4 linked regions of the Homo sapiens genome follow. The protein of the gene in region 2 purifies or fractionates together with the protein of the main gene of each other region. This does not show direct contact. Each region holds a gene or a part of one and is shown on either strand. Other genes may lie near its edges.

Evidence for each region. The genes of interacting proteins can lie anywhere in the genome.
Region 1: the proteins of TTC29 (region 2) and IKBIP purify together in Homo sapiens (affinity purification with mass spectrometry; 2 studies listed by BioGRID and IntAct, with this or other methods). This does not show direct contact.
Region 3: the proteins of TTC29 (region 2) and TAF8 purify together in Homo sapiens (affinity purification with mass spectrometry; 2 studies listed by BioGRID and IntAct, with this or other methods). This does not show direct contact.
Region 4: the proteins of TTC29 (region 2) and OBSL1 purify together in Homo sapiens (affinity purification with mass spectrometry; 3 studies listed by BioGRID and IntAct, with this or other methods). This does not show direct contact.

What each region holds. Positions count from the first base shown.
Region 1 is NC_000012.12:98,627,789-98,632,187, forward strand, and holds part of IKBIP (inhibitor of nuclear factor kappa-B kinase-interacting protein), read right to left. Parts: intron 1-4,399. UniProt on the Homo sapiens protein: Target of p53/TP53 with pro-apoptotic function.
Region 2 is NC_000004.12:146,910,666-146,915,964, reverse strand, and holds part of TTC29 (tetratricopeptide repeat protein 29), read left to right. Parts: intron 1-5,299. UniProt on the Homo sapiens protein: Axonemal protein which is implicated in axonemal and/or peri-axonemal structure assembly and regulates flagellum assembly and beating and therefore sperm motility.
Region 3 is NC_000006.12:42,056,125-42,060,523, forward strand, and holds part of TAF8 (transcription initiation factor TFIID subunit 8), read left to right. Parts: intron 1-1,264; coding exon 1,265-1,389; intron 1,390-4,399. UniProt on the Homo sapiens protein: The TFIID basal transcription factor complex plays a major role in the initiation of RNA polymerase II (Pol II)-dependent transcription.
Region 4 is NC_000002.12:219,558,040-219,562,438, reverse strand, and holds part of OBSL1 (obscurin-like protein 1 isoform 1 precursor), read left to right. Parts: coding exon 1-37; intron 38-430; coding exon of another isoform or gene 431-555; exon of another isoform or gene 556-717; intron 718-2,941; coding exon 2,942-3,214; intron 3,215-3,979; coding exon 3,980-4,255; intron 4,256-4,328; coding exon 4,329-4,399. UniProt on the Homo sapiens protein: Core component of the 3M complex, a complex required to regulate microtubule dynamics and genome integrity. It is unclear how the 3M complex regulates microtubules, it could act by controlling the level of a microtubule stabilizer.

The sequences.
Region 1 (4,399 bases), on a different chromosome or scaffold from region 2:
TACAATTTGATATCTTTCCTAAAATCCTATAATTCTGGAAGGGTTTCTGCCAAAAAATTTTTTTGACCAACCTCTTGCAGAGAAAGTACTAGAATCAGGTCTTACAGATACAAAGGCAACAATGAATTAAAAAACAGTTTAGTGAGACAAGTCAAATTGAATGGTAAAGTGTTTTAAGTATTTGTAAATTATGCTAAGCCTCCGGCACCTCCTAATCTGTATCTGGAATATAGAAGGCCAAGTCATTGACCTCTTTTAGTCTACACTTAGATAACAGCTTTAGAGACTACAGGAAGGCCTAGAAATAATCATTAATTTATTATGTGCTTGCAGCATTATGCTGAAGACATAATACTGAACAAGATACAAAATACTGCCCTTAAGCAGCTTTGTTTAATCGACGAGAAAGACAAGTGTATATGCACTATGACAGGTGAAGAGCTATGGAAGCACTCAGGTGGAGACCCAACCTAGACTTCAGTGATGAAGGAAAGTATTTTAGAAAAAGTAATATCTAATATCTGCTTCCAGTTGCTTGCTCTCTAAATTAGCCTACACACTACTACTAGACTAAGCTTTTAAAAACTGGTATGCCTATCATGGTACACTGTTACAAAACCTTTGATGTTTCCTAATACTTCTAGGATAAAGTCTCAAATTCTCTAACCTCTCCCTATGCTATCCTCCTCTCCTCTTTATTTAGTTACATTGTCCTTACTTCAAGGCTCAGACCGGATCTCAGCTCCTCAGAGCAGCATTTCTTCCATAGCCCTAGCCCTGACAACCTGAATTCCTGTAGCACCTATTACACATATATTTGCCACATATTTGCCTCTTAGCACATACAATTAAAAAATTTTGAGGGTTCACTCTGTGCCAGCCTTGTGTGAGACAGTGGAGACAAATACAGCATAGTCCTTGATTTCACAATTTGATTGGGAGACAGTGTTTAGATCTTCCACATCATATATTCTAGAGTCCCAACAAGATCTACTGAGTACCCTGTGTGAGGTAGTTCCATTATCAGGTACTAGGGAAATGGAGATAAAAGATGCAGTGTATGCTCTAAAGAGGAGTAAAGGAGATAAACTAGCAACCAAAAAAATCACAGTAGATTATAAGTAGCGTCACAAAAGAATTAGCACAGGGGGCAATGGATGCTTTGAGGAGAGATAAAAAGTTAGGAGGGCAATGCGAAAAGGCCTGGAAGTGGCTCCAAAATTGGAATCATTAACAGACTGATTGATGAATTAGCAGGGTGAAGATGTGAAAGCTTCTAAATTTCAAAGGAGAAGAGACCATGTCTTATGCCTCTGTGTAATCCCTACATCTCAGAGTACAAAGAATATGTTTGTTGATGCTTAGGAAGAATGACCCTAAGCCTTCTAGGTCCACCCCAATCAAGACTTAAAGAGTATGCAACAAGAATGACTAACACCACTCTGAAATGTTGTTTAAAATTTATTTTAAGGGTTGGGCATGGTGGCTTACGCCTTAATCCCAACATGTTGGGATGCCAAGGCAGAAGGACTGCTTGAGCCTAGGAGTTTGAGACCAGCCTGGGCACAAAGCAAGACCCTGTCTCTATCAAACAAACAAACAAACAAACAAACAAACAAAATTAGTTGGGCATGGTGGTGTGCGCCTGTAGTCCCAGCTACTTGGGAGGCTGAGGTGGGAGGATTCCTTGAGCCCAAGAGTTCAGGGTTGCAGTGAGCTATGATCATGCCACTGCATTCCATCCTTGGTGACCGGGCAAGACCCTGTCTCAAACATACATACATACACACACACACATTTAAAGAAAACAAACAAAAAAATCCAAAGAAATAAAAACCTCTTTTAAATGTACACATACAGCCATAATACAAGTTCCTTTTAAAATCAATTATGAGAAATACTAACCATTAACATGGTTAGGTTTAGTTGTTTTATTAGCAGTATTTTGAAGAGGCAAGCTTATCCTCACCTAAGGTAATGTCCTGTTTAGGAGGTTCATCAGAGCCTCACTATAATCTGAAAGCAGTATACCCCAAGTAAGTGCAAGATGTTATAGATTTAATCTGCAAATATTTAGTGACTAGTATGCCACAGTAGCTAGCATTTATGGGCCACCAACATATTCTAATCGTTTTTCATTTTTATTTACTAAAAAAATTTTTTTTGTAGAGATGGGGTCTCACCATGTTGCCTGGGCTGGTCTCAAACTGCCAGGCTCAAGTGATGCTCCCAACTTAGCTTCCCAAAGTGCTGAGATTACAGGCATAAGCCACCACACCGGGTCTCATTTTTTCTTAAAGAAAGAGCTAGTAGGGCCAGGTGCGGTGGCTCACACCTGTAATCCCAGCACTTTGGGAGGCTGAGGCGGGTGGACCACCTGAGGTCGGGAGATTGAGACCATCCTGGCTAACACAGTGAAACCCCATGTCTACTAAAAATACAAAAAATTAGCCGGGTATGTTGGCACATGCCTGTAATCCCAGCTACTTGGGAGGCTGAGGCAGGAGAATTGCTTGAACCCAGGAGGCAGAGGTTGCAGTGACCAGATCTCCCCACTGCACTCCAGCCTGGGCAACAAGAGCCTGGGCAAAAAAAAAAAAAAAAAAAAAAAAAAAAAAAAAAAAAGAGCTAGTACTTTATTAGTGCTTGATTGTTTTCAAAGAATTTGTATATAAAGTAAGTCCTCACTTAACGTCATTGGTAGGTTCTTGGAAACTGACTTTAAGTGGAACTATTCAGAGCAGCTCCTCCAACAACGTTGTTTCGATGTCCTTTCATTACAACGTAGATGAGAAAAAAATTGGTTTCATTATACACTTCACTTAAAATCGTAGTTTCCAGGAACCTATTGATGACCAGGAACCTATTGATGACGTTGAGGACTTACTGTATATCTCATCTGATCTTTATAAAAATCTTATTATTTCTCACTTAATAAATGATGAAATAGAGATGAAGATAAGTTATAGTGATTTGTCTAAGGTCACACAGTTGGGATGGGTGTCCATGTCTAGCTGTTTTCCCCTCCATCTGGGTTATGCTGCCCTTTAGGGCCACCTTTGTGAAAAGGGACCTCTTATTAAATTACTCCCAGGGCAGAATGGGAGAAAAAGCTACGAAAAGACTGAATATTTCTTTTTTTTCTTTTCATTTTTTTTTTTGAGACGGAGTTTCGCTCTTGTTGCCCAGGCTGGAGTGCAATGGCATGATCTCGGCTCACCACAACCTCCACCTCCCAGGTTCAAGTAATTCTCCTACCTCAGCCTCCCGAGTAGCTGGGATTACAGGCATGCACCATCATGCCCAGGTAATTTTTTGTACTTTTAGTAGAGATGGGGTTTTTCCATGTTGGTCAGGCTGGTCCTGAACTTCTGACCTCAGGTGATCCACCTGCCTTGGCCTCCCAAAGTGCTGGGATTACAGGTGTGAGCCACCACGCCTGGCCAAGACTGAATATTTTTTGGATTCTATAATGATATTTTAAAAATCTGCTTCAAAAGCTTTTTTTTTGAGATGGAGTCTCACTTTGTTGCCCAGGCTGGAGTGCAGTGGTGCAATCTCGGCTCACTGTGACCTCTGCCTCCCCGGTTTAAGCGATTCTCCTGCCTCAGCCTCCTGAGTAGCTGGGACTACAGACACACGCTACCATGCCCAGCTAATTTTTGTGTTTTTAGTAGAGATGGGGTTTCATCATGTTGGCCAGGCTGGTCTTGAACTCCTGACCTCAGGTGATCCACCCACCTCGGCCCCTCAAAGTGCTGGGATTACAGGTGTGAACCACCGTGCCCAGCCTGGCCAACATGGTGAAACCCCGTCTCTACCAAAAATACAAAAATTAGACGGGTGTGGTGGTACACACCTGTAGTCCCAGCTACTCGGGAGGCTGAGGCAGGAGAATCACTTGAACCCGGGAGGCGGAGGTTGCAGTGAGACAAGATCGAGCCATTGTACTCCAGCCTGGATGAGAAAAGTGAAACTCTGTACCACCCCTGACCTCCCCCACAAAAAAAAAAAGAAAAAAAAAAAGGAGAAATCTTGTTCAAAATAAGTTTTCAATAGCTTTTATTTATATTTATTTATTTATTGAGATGGAGTCTCACTCTGTTGCCCAGGCTGGAGCACAATGGCGTGATCTCAGCTCACTGCAATCTCCACCTCCCAGGTTCAAGTGATTCTCCTGCCTCAGCCTCCCGAGTAGCTGGGATTACAGGCGCCCGCCACCACGCCCAGCTAATTTTTGTATTTTTAGTAGAGATGGGGTTTCACCATGTTGGCCAGGCTGATCTCAAACTCCTGACCTCGTGATCTGCCTGCTTCGGCCTCCCAGTGTGCTGGGATTACAGGCGTGAGCCACCGCGTCCGGCCTTCAATAGCTTTTAATTAAATATGTGAAGTTTTG
Region 2 (5,299 bases):
AATGAAATAAAAGTATTATCCTGACTTTTGATTAGATGTTACATATCTTTTGATTTTATCTTTGTCAGATTAAATGAAAATTTTATGATCTTGTTTTAAAGTACGGTTTTTTTATTGAACCGCTTTTGAAATATTTCACTGACTGTAAAGCTTCATCTTGATTCCATAATTCAGTTTATCCTATGAAAAAAATATGTTAAATATATCAGTCATATAATTGAATATACAATAATGCCTTTGATTTTAAAAATTCACCTAATAACTTATACAAAGACCTACTTAGGTGGTTTTATATTACTTGTTAGATTTATTAGTTTAGGTGCAGAGAAAGTAAAATAAATTGTAATTTCTATTCATTGCATCTATTCATCTTTTTTATATTTATAGAAGTATATGCTTTTTATCCTTTTAAATGTTTGTCTTTGTCAGTGTTTTTCCCGTTAGAGTTTACACCCTTGAGTGGGAACCATATCCATTTAATTTGCTCTTCCTGGATGCTGCTGGCTGTCTGCTCTCTCCTTTTAAAGAGAAGGATTTTCTGGGGGAGTCACAAAATGATACTGATCTCTGTCTCCAACCCAACCTAAACATGGATTGCCATGGATAAAGAGAATGGCTTACCAATTGAAAGATTGCATCATAATTGTCAAATAACATCAAATTCCTAATCAATGCAATAAATAAAACATTGTGTGGAGGAGGAGAAGAAGAAAAAGCAACAATACATGATATAATAGGAGGCAATGTAGGGAAATGGGAAGAATTCAGAATTTGCAACCAGAGGGAGCTGGGTGTGAATTCCAACTCTGCCATTTACTATTAATAACTTGTATGGCTTTGGGCAATTCACAACCTCACTGAAGACAGGTTTTTTAATTTGTAAAAATTGAAGTAGTTCTTTATACAGTTATTGTGCCAGTTAGAAATGATGTCTACACAGTGCCTGACACATTGTGGGTGTTCTATAAATAGTAGCTATTCAAAATAGTTTAAGGCAGAATTTTAAAACACTATAATATCTCCATGGCTGTTTAGCAGTAAATTCTCCATTTCCCAGCATCTCTATATATTCACCTGCTGTGGAGTTATGCCATATTGTTCAGCTCTGCTTTCTGTCAGTCTCTAGATTTTTTAAATCTCTGCATTTTTTTAGGGAGATGTTGATGTGAATTCAAAACAATTAACAACATCTCCATTGAATGAATAATGCCCTTAAATGGCAATAAAACCCATATGAAATGCTTGACTACTTAATTTCATTCTCAAATGCATTCTCAAGCTGCATCCCTTATCTCGTTGCAGCCCCAAGTATCTGCAGTGGCAAAGATCTTCCTCAGGATACATTCAGCATGTCCACGAATGTGACAACTTTTGCTTCTGTGAATGGCACGTTTTTTTCCTGTCAGATGAACTCTCCTCATATTTCCTAATATTAAATCTCTCCATAAATTTTACCAGCATTCTCTATTTTCATCCAGTATCATGGCATCAGTTCAAGAAGATTTTTCTTTTTCTGATGCTTAAAAACAGCATCTGTTAATTTAGACTAATATTCATAAAAGTTTTTTAATGTGTAAATGAAACCAAAGCCTAAAAAGTTTATGGCCAAATGAAATAATGATTAAGCGAATAAATCTGAGTTTTGTTTATATTTCTATTTGTGTTTAAAACAATTCTCTTTCATACAGCAAGTGAACTTGGGCTATGGTTCTCTGTTATGAAATTTAAAACCTGAGAAATTCAAATCTAATGGTAGAGATTGACATTCCTTTTTTTTAGATAGCCGATTTATTTTAATAAAAGAAGATTTTCTGGTTAAAAGAAATAATTTGCAATAACTATGAAGGTTTAGATAGGAACCTATTTATTAAACCACTATAATTGTCTTTTCTTGCTCTCAAATATTAGCAATGAGGCTTAAACAGTAGCATATTTGTATGCATAGGTATGTGCGCATGTGTGTAAAAAATAGAGATGATACCAGCATAGTTCTATATGCATATTTAAATACATTTCTATTTGTAACATCATCTGTAAAGAATGATCTTTTTTAAAAATGTACTAGAAATTTTAAAAATTGATATCAGTTATATATCACAGATGTTTGAAGCTGAAAGGCATTGTGGAAATGATTGTCCAACCCCTTCTGAATCACTTAGTGTTCTTTGGTCACAGACAGCAGAAATGGATTCTGACTAAATCAAGTGGAAATGATTTTATTGAAAGGTTATGGTGGAATTTAGAGGAGAACCCAGATCAGAAGAAAAAGACCAGACCCAGCCCTCTCAAATGGACGTAGTTAGCAGGAACTACGAGAGAATCTTGTCAAGATTCTTCCAGATTGATTGAGCACCAGCAACCTCCTACACCTTTATGTTGCTTGCCTCTGGTTTCAGAATTTTGGGAGAGAGACCAGTTGGCCTAATTTGGGTCAATAACCCACTCCTTGGCTAGGGAGTCCCTGAATTTCCATGCCACCAAGACTACACACAACGTGGGATTGGTTATTTCTGAAATACTTTTAGAATGTGCCTCCTGTGGACGTGGAGCTAGATGCTGGGTGGACCAAATCCAGCAAAAGCACCTTCATCTTCCAGGTGGGGAAAATGAGGCCCAGAGTGATTTTTCTGGATTTCTGACCCTGTTGTGATTAGAACTGAGACAGCCTTCTAACTGCCCTATCTAGCATTTATTTGTATCATTTATGGTCAATTTTAATTTTTATCTATTTATAATTTTCTTCATTTTGGCCCCCAAATGTTTTCTTCACTCCTAGGAAGATCGGCTGGCCGCCAGTGCATACACATACAAAGGTGGCATTGCTTGTGTGAGCAAGATTACAACCCCTTGTCCTCTCAGGCCTCCTATGTCACCCCCCAAACTGCCTTCTAGGGTAACACGTGGAGGTCCCCTCAGGCTCCTGAAACTCCAGTTATCTGAACCTTAACTCATTATCTTTCCCCAAACCTGTTCATCCTTTCGTGTTCCCCTCTTCAGCAAATTACTAATTACCCATTACCCAATCCCAAAACCTGGTTGTTATCCTTGCTCCTCCCTTTCCTTCACCCTTGATATCCTTTGAATCACCAAGTAACCCATATTTTTGTCTCCTTAAAATGTTTTGAAATCACCTACTTCTCTCTATCCTTCCAGCTTTACCCTGGTTCCACCCCCAGCACCTCTCCTTTCCACAACCACCAGTCTCCCATCTGTTCTTCCTGCTCCCGGTTTTACCCTCCTCCCCTCCCTTCTCTTGGATCAGGTGTGAATTTCTGACTCACAGACTCGAGAATGCTAAATTGAAAGTCTTTATTTTTTTATAACTTAATTTTAATTCCTGGCCCTGAGCCTTGATCCTCCCTAGTGTAAAAATCCAATCTTGTCACTCTCAGGTAAAGTCAGTCCAATTCGGCAGTTTCTCAGGTTGTTCAAGATTCTAAAACTTCTTCCCCTCACCCTATTTTCCTACACGGAAACAGCAGCGCACTACTCGGGGCTTCAGGGGAGTAGAGTTACTAGATTTAGCAAATAGAAATACAGACCATACAGTTCAGTCTGAGTTTCAAAAACAAGAAATTTTTTTTTAGAATAAGTATGTTCTGTGCAATATTTGGGGAATACTGCTAATAAAAAAATCATTCATTGTTTATCTGATGTTAAAATGTACCTGGGCATCCTACATTTTATCTGGTAACCCCCTGGGGTAACAACATTTATTTTCAGATCTTGACCTGGAACAAGCTTGTCCAACCCAGTGCCCGTGGGCCACATGCGGCCCAGGATGGCTTTGAATGTGGCCCAACACAAATTCATAAACTTTCTTAAAAAGGCTATGAGATTTTTTTGTGATTTTTTTTTTAGCTTATCAGCTATTGTTAGTGTTAGTGAATTTTATGTGTGGCCCAAGGCAATTCTTCTTCCAATGTGGCCCAGAGAAGCCAAAAGACTGGACACCTCTGACTTCTAGGACTTTGTAATTGTCACTGCATTTGTCTGGCCAGTATCCATTCCTTCCTCCATCTTTGCAGACATAGCTCTAGTTTTGCTTGGGGGCAGCAACATGCCCAAGAGCAGGCAGGGTATTTGTTTTTCCAGACTCCTTGCACCAAGGTGAGGAGTGGGGCTGTGACAGGGTTCTGGCCAATAAACAAGTGGAAATCCGCTAGTGGTTGCAGGAATGTTTCATTTTTCCCTAAAATAAGGGATGCCAGTGCCAACCCACTTTCCCTTTTCTTCCTGTCTTGAAAGTAGACCTAATGTCTGAAGCTGTAGCAGCCCTGTAGCAACCAGTAAGGGACCAGAAGGAGGGAAAGTCAAGATAACCCCAGAGACATGGTCTTGAACTTGCCAGGCTACTGAACCAAGGCCCTCAGCTGCCTGCCTTTAGGCAAGAAAATTAGAAACCTCCATTTTTCACAGCACTGTGAGACAAGTTTCTTTTACTTATAGCTGAATGCATTCCTAGCTTATGAAGTCCTTTACATGTGTCCATCTCTGATGTACTTGATCCGTCTTTGTTCTATGAGCTCTGGAAATATGCTGACCTGAACCCTTCAGGAGCTCCCCAGTATGCTCATTTCAGTTTTAGCTGTGTCTTCCTTCAGTCCCCAGTGGGCAGCCCATGAGCAGTCATTAGGATACATCTCCTTGCTATGGCCAGATGACATTGTGACAGACTTATCAGCCCTCTCCTCCCAGTAAATTCTGGGCCACACATGATGCCCACTGGAATATTAAGTCCCTTCTCCTATACCATTCATGGGCTGTGGGCAATTACAGGGTTGGTTCTGGTCCTCTTCTGCCTAGAAGTGCTATGCAGGGACTTTTGCTGCCTTTGCATGCCCTTGCGTATAGGGAGGTGGGGAGAGGGATGTTGGTAATCCTCCCTGCCTTCAATAACCCTAGATGGGAAGCAGGATATGAGTGTTTTCTACTCTTGGCTCTCACTGCATTTCACAGGATGTTGACTTTTCTACTCTCTGAGCCCCTCCATTTGACTGGAGTGAGAAAGAGAAAGAGAACATGGCCCTCCAAGCATCTCACTGCCTTTCTCCATACTTTTCTCCTCTATCGATCGCAATTGGAGGACAGGAATAAGTAACAAGCACTATTCCTTTTCTCTTCCCCATTTCAAATATATCTTATTCTCATACTAAATGTTGGCATTTGATCTTTTGACCTAGGATCCATGTGGTCTCTTTATTCTCTTTACGAACTAGTTCTGTAACAACCTGACTGCCATATAGGGGAAGGTTGCGGTTCAGCTGGGACACTTCTTCCAGATGACTTTTGTAAAATG
Region 3 (4,399 bases), on a different chromosome or scaffold from region 2:
CTCTTCCAATGTTTGGGGCTACCTACAATATAATCTTTATTTGGGCTAGTCTGATTAGCATGTGAAATTCAGTCACCAAAAGGTAAACCATCTTTGAGATATTGCTGTGTTTCTTGTGTTCTAGCCCCAGAAGGGCAAATGATGCTGCTTGGAAAAATGAAAGTTTTTGTTCTTCTTAGATTAAGGGTTGGTAAATTGTGGCCTATGGGCCAAATGCAGCCTGCCTCCTGTTTTTGTAAATAAAGTCTTATCGGAATGCAGCCATATTTACTTATTATCTGTGGTTGTTTTCATGCTATAATGGCATAGTTTAGTTGTGGTAGAGACTGTACCACATGCAAAACCTAAAGTATTTATTATATGGCCCTTTACACAAACTTTGATGACCTCTACTTTAAGTAAACCTGGGTGCCATAAGCTGAGTAGAGAGTAACCAGTTTGGGCTTGTAGGACCTGGAGAGAGTTAACTGGATTTTTTTCTTTTCTTTCTTTTTTTGAGATGGAGTCTCGCTCTGTTGCCCAGGCTGGAGTGCAGTGGCACAATCTCGGCTGACTACTGCAACCTCTGCCTCCGAGGTTCAAGCTATTCTCCTGCTTCAGCCTCCCAAGTAGCTGGGATTACAGGCGCTCGCCACCACACCCAGCTAACTTTTATATTTTTAGTAGAGACAGGGTTTTACCATGTTGGCCAAGCTGGTCTCGAACTCCTGACCTCGAGTGATCCGCCTGCCTCGGCCTCTCAGAGTGCTGGGATTACAGGCGTGAGCCACCGCACCCGGCCTGGATTTCTTCTTTAAAGTCACTTTTTTCTTGTTGGCATTTTTTTAAAAACTCCCTCTCAACATAGCAGTGGAAGGTGCCATTTTCAATCCCCTCTTGTTATGATTAAGCTCACACTTAATGTCCCCAGCTCATTGTTCCTTTTTGTTATCCAAGGTCTCTGAAAAGAGAACCAGCAGCCCATGTAACCTGCGTAGCTCCTCAGCATGCTGTTTTACGTAGTTACTGTGGCCACAGCCACCCACCTCTACCTAAGAGGCTTGTGGGCAGATTGTTGTCAAAGGGAACGTCAACCAAGATTAGCCAGCAGGGCTGGGCATTGTAAGCCATCAAAGACCTTTTATCGATTGAAATACAAAATGCAACTTGTTTAGAAAATTGAGGTCTGGCATTTTTTTGAGAAAAGGAGGCTTTGGGGAGAGACCATAATCTGTAGAAATCAGGGTCTTGGGTGGAGGGGTAATCAGTTGTGACTCTGTTGCAGCTCCGGTGACCAATCAGCCAGTGACCCCCAAGGCCCTCACTGCAGGGCAGAACCGACCCCACCCGCCGCACATCCCCAGCCATTTTCCTGAGTTCCCTGATCCCCACACCTACATCAAAACTCCGGTGAGTGATGAAGCACTGGGACTGCGCGTGGTGTAAAGCACGGAGTCAGTTCCTACTGACTGTCACGTGGCAGAGTCCAGTCCAAAAGCTTGTTGATGAAAGAGTGGTTCAAAACTCAGAATGTGGCCGGGCACATTGGCTCACACCTGTAATCCCAGCATTTTAGGAGGCCGAGGCAGGAGGATCACTTGAGCCTGGGAGTTCAAGACCAGCCTGGGCAGCAGAGCAAGACCCTGTCTCATTTGAAAAATAAATAAATAAAGAAAAAAAAAAGAATTCAGATTATCTTTCATAATTGAGAAACAATTTGGCAAATGAGAATTATGTTCTCAAGTTTGCCAGCTAAAGTATAATTAACAAAGAAATTGAAGCTGGCCCCAGTATTGCCTGTCCTACTAAAACACAAAAGTACATAGCCGCATAGGAACAAGACTGAAAAGGTATTCCACTAAATGTTCATAGTAATTTTGGGTTGAGATTATAGGTCATTTTGTTTTGTGTTTACTTTTCTGAGTTTTCCAAATTTTCCATAATAGGAAAATTATTTTTTCAATTGGGGGAAAAGTTACTTTAAAAATATTTAGTAATGGCCGGGAGCAGTGGCTCATACCTTTAATCCCAACACTTTGGAAGGCCGAGGCAGATGGATCACCTGAGGTCAGGAATTCAAGACCAGCCTGGCCAACACAGTGAAACCCCATCTCTACTAAAATTACAAAAATTAGCTGTGCGTGGTGGCACATACCTGTAGTTCCAGCTACTCAGGAGGCTGAGGCAGGAGAATCTAACCTGGGAGACAGAGGTTGCAGTGAGCTGAGATTGCGCCACTGCACTCCAGCCTAGGCGACAGAGCAAGACTCTGTCTCAAAAAGAAATAAATAAAAATTAGTAATGATAATGAAATGGAACTTATCACTCTGAGCTCTAGGTCTGAATGAGGAGAAGATGAATTATCCTCTGTGGTTTGAATGTGTTCTAATTTGCCTGAATGGCAGTTTTACCTTCCGTTGGGAAGGTGCCCTCCCACACTTCCTTTGCTTCTGCCTGCATACCATATAGTGATGGCAAGCCCTCACGTCCTCTGGGCATTTTTCCATACCTTAGGGTGGGGGAGAGGGAATAGTAGCTGCCCAGCTAATGCAACATAGCCCTTGCCCTTGCCCTTGGTCAGATCTCTCTATTAGTTTCCTGGGCTGCTGTAACAAAATGCCACAAACCAGGTGACTTAGAACAACAGAAATTTATTGTCTCACAGTTCTGGAGGCTAGAAGTCTAAAAGCAAGGTGTCATGCTCCCTCTGAAACCTGTAGGGGAGTCCCTCCTTGCCTCTTCCTAGCTTCTGGTGGTTGGCCAGCATTCTTTGGCATTTCTTGGCTCATAGATGCATCACTCCAGCTTTCTGTCTTCACATGGCATTCTTTTTTGTGTGTGGTTGGGGGGCAGAGGGGGAGACTGGAGTTTTATTATTACTCAAATCAGTCTTCCCCAGCATTCGGGGAGCAGAGTTTTTAAGGATAATGTGGTAGGTCGGGGGAAGCCAGTGAGCCAGGAGTGCTGATTGGTCAGAGATGAAACCATAGGGACTCAGGGCCGGGCAAGGTGGCTCACGCCTGTAATCCCAGCACTTTGGGAGGCCGAGGTGGGGGGATCATGAGGTCAGGAGATCGAGACCATCCTGGCCAACATGGTGAAACCCCGTCTTTACTAAAAATACAAAAAATCAGCCGGGCATGGTGGCGGGCACCTGTAGTCCTAGCTACTTGGGAGGCTGAGGCAGGAGAATAGTGTGAACCCGGGAGGCAGAGCTTGCAGTGAGCCGTGATTGCACCATTGCACTCCAGCCTGGGCGACAGAGCGAGACTTTGTCTCAAGAAAAAAAAAAAAAAAGAAATCATAGGGACTCAGAGCTGTCTTCTTGCACTGAGTCAGTTCCTGGGTGGGGGCCACAAGATCAGATGAGCCAGTTTATTGATCTGGGTGGTGCCAGCTGATCCATCAAGTGCAAGGTGTCTCAACACTGATCTTAGGAACAGTATAGGGAGGGTCAGAATCTTGTAGCCTCCAGCTGCATGACTTCTAAACCATAATTTCCAATCTTGTGGCTAATGTTAGTCCTACAAAGGCAATCTAGTCTCCAGGCAAGATGGAGGTCTTCTTTGGGAAAAGGAGTGTCACTGTCTTTGTTTAAACTCTAAACTAAGTTTCTCCCAAAGTTAGTTTAGCCTCCGCCCAGGAATGAACAAGGACAGCTTGGAGGTTAGAAGCAAGATGGAGTCAGTTAAGTTAGATCTCTTTCACCGTCTCAGTCATAATTTTGCAAACGTGGTTTCAGTCCTTCCCTTTGGGTTTTATAACACCTTAATCTTAAGGTGTAGGCTGTGAAGATGGGAAAAGGCTATCAATTGCTCTGGCTTCTTCCTGCTGACAGGGCACATTATGGGAATGGGAGTGAACCCGAAGGTGAGAAGAGTGGAACTGGTTTGCAACTGTCTGAGTGTACTCATGCAGGCCTGGCTAGGCGTTCATGGCTTGCATGGCACAAACATTAGTACTCTGTAGTTTTACTACAGTGTTTAAGTGAAACAGCCCACTATAAGGTAAATAACGAGTCCTAGGATGAGGAGTACAATTCCCAATTTTAAAAGCAAAGATTTGGAAGCACTAGTTTGGGGACTTCTAACCCACAAAGACTTTAGAATTTAGTCTAAACTGCAGAAAAAACCTCAAGAACAGCTAACAACAGTGTACTATAGTTTTTCTTTTGAAGCATAATTTTTCTCTCTCCAGTCCCCATTTTTATTAAAAACAAATCATGATACAACTGATTTGTTTACAAAATAAACTTTAGTCTTACTGTACTTGGCCCGATTATTTGCATAAAGTGCAGCAAGAATAATTATTTTTCACTTAGACTTTTTAAATTGGCTTTGATAGAACTCTGTTCCATGAAGAATCTCAGATAAGACTTTTTAAAAGCCGAGCCCAGCCATGGGTTTGTACCCTCAAATAC
Region 4 (4,399 bases), on a different chromosome or scaffold from region 2:
GACGATGAGTCGGCCTCCTTCACTGTCACCGTCACAGGTGTGGGCCCAGCCCAGCTCCCCGGGGTCACAGAGACAGCCCTGAGCCCTGGAGGAGCTGGCCACATAGCCCCAGCTAGCACCCCGGGGAGGAGGGAGGTGTGGGCTGCAGGTGCATGTGCCAGGGTTCTTGCTGAGATGAGCCCAGGGCCCCTATTCAAGGAAACAAGCCCCTCCCCGGTGCCCAAGGCCAGGCCTAGCTCTGCTCCACAGCTCATTTACTGAGCACTTTCCCTGAATCAGGCACTGGGAGTAGCAGGTGAGTAATGCAAATACGGTCCCTATTCTGAATGAGCTGCCAGGCTAGGTGAGGAGGCAGCTGTTAACCAGGGGTCGCAAACGGGTAGTCCTGGGGCCCTGCGCATTCCACACATGTGCTTTGTTTGGTCTGCAGAGTCTTACCAAAGTCAGGACAGTTCAAATAACAATCCGGAGTTATGCGTCCTCTTGAAAAAGCCGAAGACCCGGCGGCTCTGGTCCCGCTTCCCCCCATGGCGACGAACAGCTGGCACTGAGTAGCAGCTGCCCCCATAGTTTGGGGCCCACATTCCTCTGTCCCACCTCCCTGCCATTGCTTTTTGCCTCTCCCCAGACTGCTTCAGCCGCTAACCTAACCTGGCCCCTGTGGGCATTTGAGTTTGCGACCCCTGTGTTAAACCAATAAACATGCAAATAAATGTACAGTGACACCTGGTGATAAGTACTGTGAGGGCCAAGGGCAGAGGGCTCAAGAGCACAGAGCAGGAGGGTCAGGGAGGCCTGGGAGAAAGTCACCCTTCCACACACGGGAGCCAGCAGCACGCAGACACGGCCGCTTCCCTCTAGGACTGCACAGCCTGGCAGGAAAGCCAGACGCATTCCAGGATCTTAGAGCATGGGTTGTTGAGGGCCAGTCTAGGGACCCTGGGGCTGGGAGCCACCACCCTGGCCAGGCAACAGGAAGTGCTTTCAAAGCTGATACTGGAGCTAAGTGGGGTGGGGTGTGGGGGAATATTCAAAGCGGGAGAAGCACAGGACAACTGTGGAAGTGACGGAGGTTCAGTGCCGGAGACCTCGGGGTGACGGCTCACAGCGCCCAGCCCAGTGTGTGTCTGGGGCTGGGGGTCCATAGGGCTAGGCAGCTCTGGGGGGCACAGAACCCCAGTGGCTGCACTGGAGCCCCCATCCTACTGCGGCCACAGTCCTGTCCTCTCCCAGCCCTGCCCTGAAAGTCACGCCCCATGCAGAGCTGTTTAGGGCCCCCCTGCTCCTTGCACCCCAGCTAATGCACTCTACACACACAAGCCCACAATGCCTAAGAGGCCTTCTGCACATATTCTGCCCTGTCGTAATCATCTTCACCCTCTCCCACCCAGCCATGGCCAGACAGAATGGCCACAGCCACACAAACTCCAGCCCATGCTCAGGCTCCCCACAAACACCAGTCTCTTCACAGGGAAGTTCACACAAACACCACCTCTGCTCTAGGCCAGAGCGAATCAAGTCTGACACCAAGCTGAGGTCCCGGGGCTGGGCAGCCACCCGGTCCCATCACTGCACCCTGTCCTCACCCCACTGCCCTCATCACCTTCCCCACTCCTCAGGCAGCTGCATTCTGGTCTCTCCTGGCCTTGCTCGGCCCCAGAGGACCAGCCTGCATCCCCCAGACCCTTAGAGCAAGCAAGCCCATGGGGGAGGTGGGTTGTGTGGCTCAAGGCAGGAGTCTCCGTGGAGGCTGGGGGGCTGAGTGGGAGCTTGTGGTTACCTCGGCCCATGCATGCCCCTATAAACCACCCCCAGCCCCCACCCCCCCAACCCTGGCCCCTGATTGGGAAGCTAGCAGTTCCTCAGCCCAGCCACCAGGGGGCCAGAGGCTAATGGAGCAGTAGTCGCCCCAAAACTTGAAGATTCTGGGGGGACCTGGGGGCAGCAGGGGTGTGGGCAGGCCTGGGCTCCATGCGCTGGTCACCTCTAATATTGACATGGTTCCCTTTCTGCAGAGGAGTGACCAGAACTTGGAGATGAGCTCCCAGAATCAGCATTTAGCACCCCTGGGGAACTCTCAGACAGACGTTGAATGCAAAAAGCATTACTGAGTTCCTGCAAGCCTTGGCTTGGAATTCCTGCCACTACCTGTGGGGTCTGAGCCTCCCTTTAACAGAGGGTATTTCCTCCTCCTGCCCCAGAGTGGGTGTAGCCAGCTGTGACCTTAAGGAAGTTGTATAATCACTCTGTGCCCAGTCCCTTATATGGAAAATGGGGACAAAACACTACCTTCCTCTTAGGATTGCCGTGAGAGTTAAATGTTTCAAGTGCTTGGGACTGTTCCTGGACCTTAGGAAGTGTCATATCAATGTTTGCTATTGTAGATCCACCATCCCTTATCCATGGTTCCAAAATTCCAAAACTCTCAAAATCAAAAGGCTTTTTGTAAGTTTTGTATTCCAAGTCATTTCAGGAAAACCTGAGCTTGATTGCTCTGAAGCTATTTCTATGCTTTAATTATCCTGCTGAGGGTGAATATAGCTATAGCTGTATATCTATAAGATATGAGTGTCTTATAGATATATGCTTGTATCTGTAAGATTCTGTATCTTTCAATCTATCCTGCTTAGGGTGAATGTAGTATGTGTTATACCACAGACATGTTAACGTGACCGATGAAGGGGGAGGCTCCCGTGGGGGCTGAGGAAGGTATGTGATAGATGAGAAACGCATCATTTCTGGAATCCAAAGCATTCTGGATTCTGTAACACCCTCTGGCCCCAGGGATTTCAGAGAACAAACTGTGGACCTATTATTGCTTATTATTATTTTACTTATTATTCTCATTATTATGTGGGTGATAGGGACTTCATGCTGCCGAATGGCTCCAGAGAGGCTGACGGTGAGCTTGTGACAGGCTGTGGTTGTCCCCACCCTGCAGAACCCCCAGTGCGGATCATATACCCTCGCGATGAGGTGACCTTGATCGCCGTGACCTTGGAGTGTGTGGTGCTGATGTGTGAACTGTCTCGGGAGGATGCCCCTGTGCGCTGGTACAAGGATGGGCTGGAAGTGGAGGAGAGCGAGGCCCTGGTGCTGGAGAGGGATGGGCCACGCTGCCGCCTGGTGCTACCTGCTGCTCAGCCCGAGGACGGGGGCGAGTTTGTATGTGATGCTGGAGATGACTCGGCCTTCTTCACTGTCACTGTCACAGGTGGGCAGTCTCTGCAGCACAGAGAGGAGGTAGAGAGGTAGGGGGCTAAGGGACAGACACCCACCTAGCCCCACCTCCCCCACCCCATCCCCAGCCTTCCCCTTATCCAGCTTCCTCATGTTTGGCCATCAGAATCCTGCTTAGCCACATCAGGTCAGGACCAGAGGCCTGGTGGGAGGGTGCCCAGCAATTAGAACCATTCGTTCATTCATCCATTCGTTCAATACTCATTGAGCAACTACTATGTGCTTGGCACTGTTTTAGATGCTGGGGATACAGCAGTGAACCAATAAGACTAAACCTCTTGTCTTCACAGAGTTTAAACTCTGGTGAGGGTGGACAGACAAAAAATAAAAGAGATGGTTTGTCAGGTGGTAACAAGTGCATCAGAGGCAAGGCAGGGAAAGGGGATAGGAAGTGGGGATGGGTGTGGAGTGGGGTGTGTAGATCTGGGTGTGAGTCTAGATCTGCCTCTTTCTGTCTGTGTGACCTTAGGCAAGTCAGTTTCTTCTAAAGAGGCCTCAGGTCCTCAGCCATGAAGTGCAGCCAGCAGCTGTGCACCTCTTGAGGGTGGTCAGAGTAACTGATTGAAAAAACACAGGGTTCTTAGGACAGTGCCTGGCACACAGCAGCTGCTCCATGGACTGCAGCTGGCACTGTTCTCAAGAGCTGTGCTGCCAGTGGGGAGGGCTGAGGATCTGGCGGGTGAGGCAGGAGAGGCCTGCTGGCCAAGCCTATGTGCCCCTCTCCATGCCCACCCACCAGCCCCACCAGAGAGGATTGTGCACCCGGCAGCCCGCTCCCTGGATCTGCATTTTGGGGCTCCAGGGCGCGTGGAGCTGCGCTGTGAGGTGGCCCCAGCTGGGTCTCAGGTGCGCTGGTACAAGGACGGGCTGGAAGTGGAGGCATCAGATGCCCTGCAGCTGGGTGCCGAGGGGCCCACCCGCACCCTGACCCTGCCCCACGCCCAGCCTGAGGACGCCGGGGAGTATGTGTGTGAGACCCGGCATGAGGCCATCACCTTCAATGTCATCCTGGCTGGTGGGTGCTCCTGGCCAACCCAGGGCAGGGAGGCAAGGGCAAGCATGGGATGACACCTTCCTCTCTTCTCCAGAGCCTCCAGTGCAGTTCCTTGCTCTAGAGACAACTCCAAGCCCGCTCTGTGTGGCCCCTGGGGAGCCAGTG